2 linked regions of the Homo sapiens genome follow. The protein of the gene in region 1 purifies or fractionates together with the protein of each later gene. This does not show direct contact. Each region holds a gene or a part of one and is shown on either strand. Other genes may lie near its edges. The genes, in order: C1orf159 and SMO.

Region 1 (4,251 bases):
AACCCCTGGTGCTGGGCGCCCACGCCCAGGTGTCCCACGGCCAGACACTGGTGGCATCAACTCCTCCAGAGGCCCTGAGGGAACCCTGGGATGGACCCTCAGGCGAACACTGTCCCTCTAAAGAGAAGACACAAATGTGACTTCCCCAGCTGTCCCCAATACTGTTTACAAAACATCCTCACGCTGTTAAGATGGGGGCTTTATTTCCATTGAAATCTCTGGCATTTAAACTTGGGATGGAACCCGGAGGCGGCGTCCATCAAGGAGGAACAACCCCAAGGCGCATGCAGGACGGGCCTGGGAGCTCCCGGGAGCAAGGGAGCTGGGGGGTCTGGGGGCCTGGGAGGTTGGGGGGTCTGGGGGGTTGGGGGGTCTGAGGGGTTGGGGGTATATGGGGGGTTGGGGGATCTGGGGGTTTTGGGGGGTCTGAGGGGTTGGAAGGGTCTGCGGAGGTTGGGGGGGGCCGCGACACCTGCAGCGCCCCCCCACCCTGCGCGCTGGCCCAGCTAGGAGAGGGCCCGGGGACACCGACAGGATTGAAGCCTTTGATGAGCGGACGGACGTCCCCAGTTCCTTCGGGGAGCTCCTTTAAACATGTTTGCCGAAAGCTGCGGGCGCCGCGGGACGCACAGAGCTGTCTTTTCTCCGAGGGTGGCTCAGAGGCAGAGCCCCGGAAAAACCCACGCGCCCGGCCTGTGGGGCAGCGACGCCGCCCAGACCCCGGGGCCGCCGAGACTCACGGGGGAGCGTCCTGAGACCGCAGAGCCCTGACCCGTCCGAGAGGCGAAGCCCCGGGAGCCCTCTGGGTCCGAGCCGTCCCAGTCCCGCACCCAAGGCAGGGTCTCTCCCGCCGCGCTCCGACACCGGCCGCCGAGGTCCCAGCACTGGCGCCGGCCGCGGACCTGGGGCGCATTTGGCGGCGGCTCGCGAGGCGCTCGGGGCGCTCCGTGGGTCTGGAGGGCGCTGGCCCCGCGCGCCCGCGGCCAAACCTGGTGCAGCCGCGCCGCCTTCTCCGATGAAGCCGAAGCCGCCCCGGCCGCCCCCAAACGCTCCGCCTCCGCCTCCGCCTAAACCGGCGGAACGCTAAGGACGCCGACGCTTGTGCGGTCGCCCGGGAGACCCCGACGACGCCCCGCCCCGTCTCCCGGCAACGCCAAGCAGCCGGCGCGCGAGGAATCCGGGGGAATGTAGTCCCTCCGTGTCAGGGACCCGAGACATGCGCTGGTTCTTCTAGGACTACATTTCCCAGGGCGCTTCGCGCCCCGCCCCGGCGCCCCACCCACGGCCGCGCGCGATGGTACCACCAGGCGAGGGCGGCTCTCGCGCGGGCCGCCGGGAGTTGTAGTTTTCTTTGGGAGCTGCGGGGCCTGGCGCCGGGGCCGGGGCGGAAGAAAGACTACAAGTCCCAGGGGGCGCGGCGCCACCGCCTGAGGGCGGGGTGTACGAAAGAGAAACCCGGAGGGCGCCGGGGTGAGTGAGGGGCTGGGGGCAGGCGTGAGGGTAGCGGGTTGGGGCGCTGGGGTCCGTCTGGGCGGCCGGGTCGGCGCAGGGAGTGCGAGAGGCAGACAAAGGTCGGCGGCCCTGGCCCGGCCCGAGGGACGTTCCCTGCGCGTCCCCCATTGTGCGGCGCGCGGAGGAGCCGCCAGCGCCTGGGCCCGCGTCCTCGTCGCCGCCTCCCAACGAGCCTGGCCGCGGTCCTATGGGGGAAAGGCGCCCGGGCTGAGCGGGACGCCTGGGGAGGGGAAGGGGCGTCTGAGGAGGGCAGGGGGACCCCGGGGAGGGGTGGGGAGGGGGTCCCTAAGGAGGGGAGGGGGTTCCCGGAGCGGGGAGGGGGGGTCCCTGGGGAGGGGAAAGGTTCCCGGGGCAGGGAAGGGGGTCCCTGGGGAGGGGAGGGGGTCCCTGGGGAGGGAGGGGGGTCCCTGGGGAGGGGAAGGGTTCCCGGGGCAGGGAAGGGGGTCCCTGGGGAGGGGAGGGGGTCTCTGGGGGAGAGGGGGCACCTGGGGAGGGGAGGGGGTTCTCGGGGCAGGGAGGGGGTCCCTGGGGAGGGGATGGGACGGGCGCCCGGGGGAAGAAAGGGGGCGCGTTCGCCTCGCCTTCCCGGCAGCCGGGAGTGGGGGCACCGGCGCGGTCCCCGGTGTCCTAGAAGTCGGCCACGATTCAGGTCTTTTTCCCGCGAGGCTTTAGGATTTGTTTTTGTCCGTTTGTCACCTGGAGTAGCCGAGGGCTAGTCGGGGTGCAGTTTTTCGGGAGCGCGTGTTCCGGTGGCAGCGAGTCGATGATTGAGTTTGGGTGTAATTTAAGCCCAGGTGTTCGGGGGCATTTCTTACCGCGTTTCAAAGCAAACGCGGCTTCTTCCCCGGGAACTATTTTGTGGCTGAATTCTTAGCCGCCTCGTCCTGTTAAATTTCAGGATGTCAAACTTGGCCTCCTTTTTTTGGTTTTCATTTTTCTTAGTATTACCAGGGTGTGCAGAGAAGGCAGAGCTGCGTCTTCCTCTTTTATTTTTCCGTAAGTTACTGGGGTACAGGTGGTGTTTGGTTACTTGGTTACATGGGTAAGCTCTTTAGTGGTGATTTGTGAGATTTTGGTGCTCCCATCACCCGAGCAGTACGCACTGCACCCTATTTGTAGCTTTTTATCCTTGTCCCCCTCCCACCCTTCCCTCCGAGTCCCCAAAGTCCAGTGTATCGTTCTTAGGCGTCTTCCTGTTTCCTGATGGCTTAACCTGGGAAACCCTCGCAGAGGGAGCCGGTTTTGAGCCCCAGGGTAGGGGCGGCCGCCTGGGATGTTCAGTGATGCGCCTGATTACTCAGGTTTATGTTCCCCGTTTGCATTCAGCCAGGATCCGTCATGGCCACGTTGTTTTTAACATACATGTTTATGAATTATACAGAAACGTTGTTTTCCTGACACACATCCCGCCCCCAGTACTCCTCCTAAAAGCCAGTCAGGCAGGTGTTTCCACACGCAGTCACCTCAGCCCTGGGGTGCACAGGCAGCATCCCGGGAACCCCTGAGATACCTCCCAGCTGCTCCCTGCCTTGCGGCTGCTCTCCACCTGAGCTTTGACTTACTGGGTAGCTCATTTAAAGAACAGCTAGCGCTGTGGGTGCTGGGGTGGGAGATCGCTTGAGACCAGTCTGGGCAACATAGGGAGACCTCGTCTCTATAAAAAATAAAAAATATTATCCAGGCATGGGGGCAAGCACCTGTGGCCCGTTACAGTAGGTAGCTAGTCAGACATGAGCAGGGCAGAAGAGGGGCCCCCCTCTACCAGGGACATTTGGCTGGTAAGAGAAGGCGGCCCTGGCTGTGCGCGGTGGCTCACACCTGTAATCCCAGCACTTTGCAAGGCCGTGGGGGGAGGGGGGCGGATCAGAAGGCCAGGAGTTTGAGATCAGCCTGGCGAATATGGTGAAACCCCGTCTCTGATAAAAATACAAAAATTAGCCGGGCATGGTGGCGGGCGCCTGTGGTCCCAGCTACTCAGGAGGCTGAGGCAGGAGAATCGCTTGAACTCGGGAGGCGGAGGTTGCAGTGAGCCGAGATTGCGCCACTGCACTGCAGCCTGGGTGACAGAGCGAGACTCCATCTCAAAAAAAAAAAAAAAAAAAAAGGCCTCGAGGGAGCGTGCGCACAACTCCAGTAAACTCTGTGCATGCTCCCTCCCAAGTGCCCGCAGCCGCTGTGCGGGTGGACGGCCCACCCCGAGGGAAGAATCGGGAGACGTAACACCCCGGAAGCCTCCAGCGTGGAAGACCCTAAGTCAAAGGTCAAACTGCGCACTTGATCTCTCAGGTCTCCTGCCTGGCCTTCTTCCAAGGGCGCTTTACTTCCTTTCATTCCTGCTCTAAAGCTTCTTCATAAACTGTTGCTCCTGCTCTAAGGTCTCTTCTGCCTCCTACCCGTCCATCAAACTCTTCTGAGGAGGGAAAAATTGAGGTTCACTGCTGCTAACATGCTTTGGTGTCAGAAGTGGGACATATTCTGCCACTAACAGTCCCAGCTACTCGAGGGACTGAGGCAGGAGGATCGCTTCAGCCCCGGAGGTGGAGACTGCAGTGAGCCGAGATCGCAACGATGCACTCCAGCCTGTTTCACAAAGAAAAGAAAGAGCCACCTCTTCTCACCACTCTGGCTGAGGGTTGCGTGTGCCGAGGTGGAGTGTGGAGCTCAGGTGAGCCTTCAGAGCTCTATTACTGGCAGAATGTATCTGAGTTTCAGCACCAAAGTATGTCAGCAGCGGCCTCG
Region 2 (3,807 bases), on another chromosome or scaffold:
AGAAGTAACCACCAACACTGGTTTTTGTGTCCTTTTGGAAATATCCAACATCTGTCCAGATGTAGATGTGCTCTCAGTCTCTCCTCTACCGCCCAACCAGTACCATGCTCTATAGACTGCTCTCCACTCAACTGAGTCCATGTAACATGACAACATTGGACATCATTCCATTTCAATGCACATCCTGTCATGCACCCCAGAAGGAGATTTTGGTTAACAATGGACCACATGTGATGGTGTTCCCTTAAGATTATAATACCACATTTTTACTGTAGCCTTTCAATGTTTAGATATGTTTAGATACACTGATACTCACCGTTGTGTTACAGTTGCCTGCAGTATTCAGTATAGCAACATGCTGTACAGGTTTGCAGCCTAGAAGCCATAGGTTATACTGTATCAGCTAGGTGTGCAGTAGGCTATACCATCCAGGTTTGTGTAAGTACACTCTGATGTTCACACAAAGATGACATTGCCTGATGACACATTTCACAGAAGATATCCTCATTGTTAAGCAACATGTGACTATATCTCAACCCTGAATAGTGTTCTATTATAATGGTGTACATTATTTTACTTGGTTGGTCTCCTATTGATGGATATGGATTCAAGCTGTTTCTACTTTTTTGCTATTGCAAAACAGTGCTGCAATGAATAATCTATATTATCTTTGTGAACATGTGAAGTAGAAGTACTAGTATAAAATTTTGGTAGATAATGCCAAAGTGATCTCCACAAGTGTTTACTAATTTTTATTCCTACCAACAAATATAAAAGTGCCAGTTTATCCCTACACTCTTTATAGTACGGTATTTTCTTTTCTTTTTTTTTTTTTTTTTGAGATAGAGTTTTGTTCTGTCACCCAGACTGGAGTGCAATGGCGATCTCGGCTCACTGCAACATCCGCCTCCTGGATTCAAGCAATTCTCCTGCCTCAGCCTCCCAAGAAGCTGGGATTACAGGCGCCCACCACCACACCTAGCTAATGTTTGTAGTTTTTTAGTAGAGACGGGTTTTCACCATGTTGGCCAGGCTTGTGTAGAACTCCTGACCTCAGGTGGTCCACCTGCCTCGGCCTCCCAAACTGTTGGGATTACAGGCGTGAGCCACCACCATGCTCAGCCTTCTTTATGTTTTTAAAGGCCATTAAATGGCCTTGAGTCCAGGAGTTCAAGACCAGCCTGAGCAACATGGTGAAACCTTGTCTCTACAGAAAAATACAAAAATTCACCAGGTGTGGTGGTGTGAGCCTGTAGTCTTTGCTACTCAGGAGGTTGAGGTGGGAGGATTAACTGAACCTGGGGAGCTGAAGGCTGCAGTGAGCCGTGATTATGCCACTGTACTCCAGCCTGGGCAACAGTGTGAGACCCTATCTCAAAAAATAAAAAAATAAAAAAAACATAAAGAGATGTTCGACCTCACTCTTAATAATACAAATGTGGAATAAACTACAACGAAATATTCTTTTTTTAAACTTTTATACTTTTTATCACAGTGATAAAGATCAAAACATTTGAAAATGTGATCTGTTATTTGTCTTTCGCCTGTGTGTCTATAGAATTATGCAATTTTTACTGATTTGGAGGAGCTTTGTGCATATAAGGAAATTAGCTCTTGTGATAAGTATTGAAAATACATTTTTTCAGTATCTTACTTTTCTTATGATTTTTGTATCGATTTTTCTGAAGTCTTTTGTTTAAATCTTTTATTTCATGATGTGTAGGCTTTGTGTCATTTCAGAAGGCCTTCTCCACTCCAAGGTTTAAAAAATCATTTCCTGGCCAGGCGTGGTGGCTCACGCCGTAATCCCACTTTGGGAGACCGAGGCGGGTGGATCACGAGGTCAGGAGATCGAGACCATCCTGGCTAACACGGTGAACCCCCGTCTCTACTAAAAATACAAAAAAAAAATTAGCCGGGTGTGGTGGCGGGCGCCTGTAATCCCAGCTACTCGGGAGGCTGAGGCAGGAGAATGGCGTGAACCCAGGAGGCGGAGCTCGCAGTGAGCCGAGATCACATTACTGCACTCCAGCCTGGGCGACAGAGCAAGACTCCATCTCAAAAAAAAAAATCATTTCCCATCTTTTCTTCTAAAACTTTAATTTTTAGAAAAACAATGTAGTTATTTTTTTATCCATCTGGACTTTTATGTAAGAAATGGGGTAAAGCTCCACCTTATTTTTTCCCCAGATAATTTCTTAGTTGTCCTTGAAGATGTATTTAATAATCTCTCTTTTTCCTGGGGAGTTTTATTTTTAAGGTATGAAACAATATTCACAATGAGGGAAAAAAAGGAAAACAAATTAGACATTTTTAAAACCTGATTGTTACCACAGATATAAAAAGATTGAGAAAAATTACAGTTTTTTTTTTGTTGTTGTTTGTTTGTTTGTTTTAATGAGTCTTGCTGTATCACCCAGGCTGGAGTACACTGTCGTGATCTTGACTCACTGCAACCTCCACCTCCTGTGTTCAAGCAATTCTTCTGCCTCAGCCTCCCAAGTAGCTGGGACTACAGGCGTGGACCACCACGCCTGGTTAATTTTTATATTTTTTAGTAGAGACAGGGTTTCACCATGTTGGCCAGGCTGGTCTCAAACTCCCGACCTCAAGTGATCTGCCTGCCTCAGCCTCTCAAAGTGCTGGGATTACAGGCATGAGCTACCGCACCTGGCTGACACAACCTTTATTTTTTTTATTTTTCGAGACGGGGCCTTGCTCTGTCGCCTAGGCTGGAGTGCAGTGGTGCCATCTCCGCTTACTGCAACCTCTGCCTCCTGGGTTCAAGTGATTCTCCTGCCTCAGCCTCCTGAGTAGCTGGGATTACAGGCATGTGCCACCACATCCAGCTAATTTTTGTATTTTTAGTAGAGACAGGGTTTCACCATGTTGGCCAGGCTGGTCTCGGACTCCTGACCTTGTGATCCACCCGCCTCGGCCTCCCAAGTTCTGGGATTACAGGTTTGAGCCACCATGCCCAGCCGACACAACCTTTTTATTAACTGCCTGATGTTTCTCTAAAGCATTTTACTCCAGAGAGGTCCCCCCATTTTAAATATATTGTGCAATAAAAGTAAACATCCAGTAAAATTGACTTTTTCTTGTACAGTTCTAAGTTTAGACAAACACATAGACTTATGTAACCAGCCACCACATTGAATTCAAGATAGAGAATCGTCCTTTAACCCCCATATATTCTCTCATGCTACTATTTTGTAGGCAAATCCTGCCCTCACCCCAATCCCTGGCACCCACTGCTCTGTTTTCTGCAAGTACCTATGTACTCAGAATTTCTGGTGACTGTTTTTGGGTTTTTTGTTTTTTATTTTTTTGTTTTTGAGGCAGAGTCTCATTCTTTTGCCCAGGCTGGAGTGCAGTGGCGCCATCTCAGCCCACCGCAACCTCCACCTCCTAGGTTCAAGCAATTCTGTTGCCTCAGCCTCCCGAGTAGCTGGGATTACAGGCATGTACCACCACGACCGGCTAATTTTTGTATTTTTAGTAGAGACGGGGTTTCACCTTGTTGGCCAGGCTGGTCTTGAACTCCTAGCCTCAGGTGATCTGCCCGCCTTTGCCTCCCAAAGTGCTGGGATTACAGGTGTGAGCCACTGCGCCTGGCCAACTGGTGACTGAATTGAGTCAAGTGGGAACTGTTGCCTGAGGACATTGCTTCTTAACTGGCAGGAACTTGCTCTGCACCCTGGAATATACTCTGAAGGCTGGGAGCAGTCAGAGGCCTCAGACAAATAATCATAAGAGTTAACATTTCCTGAGCGCTTACTACATGACAGGTACTGTGCCAAGGGC

The links.
Region 2: the proteins of C1orf159 (region 1) and SMO fractionate together in Homo sapiens (co-fractionation; one large-scale study listed by BioGRID). This does not show direct contact.

Annotation. Positions count from the first base shown.
Region 1 is NC_000001.11:1,113,279-1,117,529, reverse strand, and holds the start of C1orf159 (uncharacterized protein C1orf159 isoform 2 precursor), read left to right. Parts: upstream 1-1,440; 5' UTR 1,441-1,470; intron 1,471-2,454; exon of another isoform or gene 2,455-2,508; intron 2,509-4,251.
Region 2 is NC_000007.14:129,198,361-129,202,167, forward strand, and holds part of SMO (protein smoothened precursor), read left to right. Parts: intron 1-3,807. UniProt on the Homo sapiens protein: G protein-coupled receptor which associates with the patched protein (PTCH) to transduce hedgehog protein signaling. Binding of sonic hedgehog (SHH) to its receptor patched prevents inhibition of smoothened (SMO) by patched.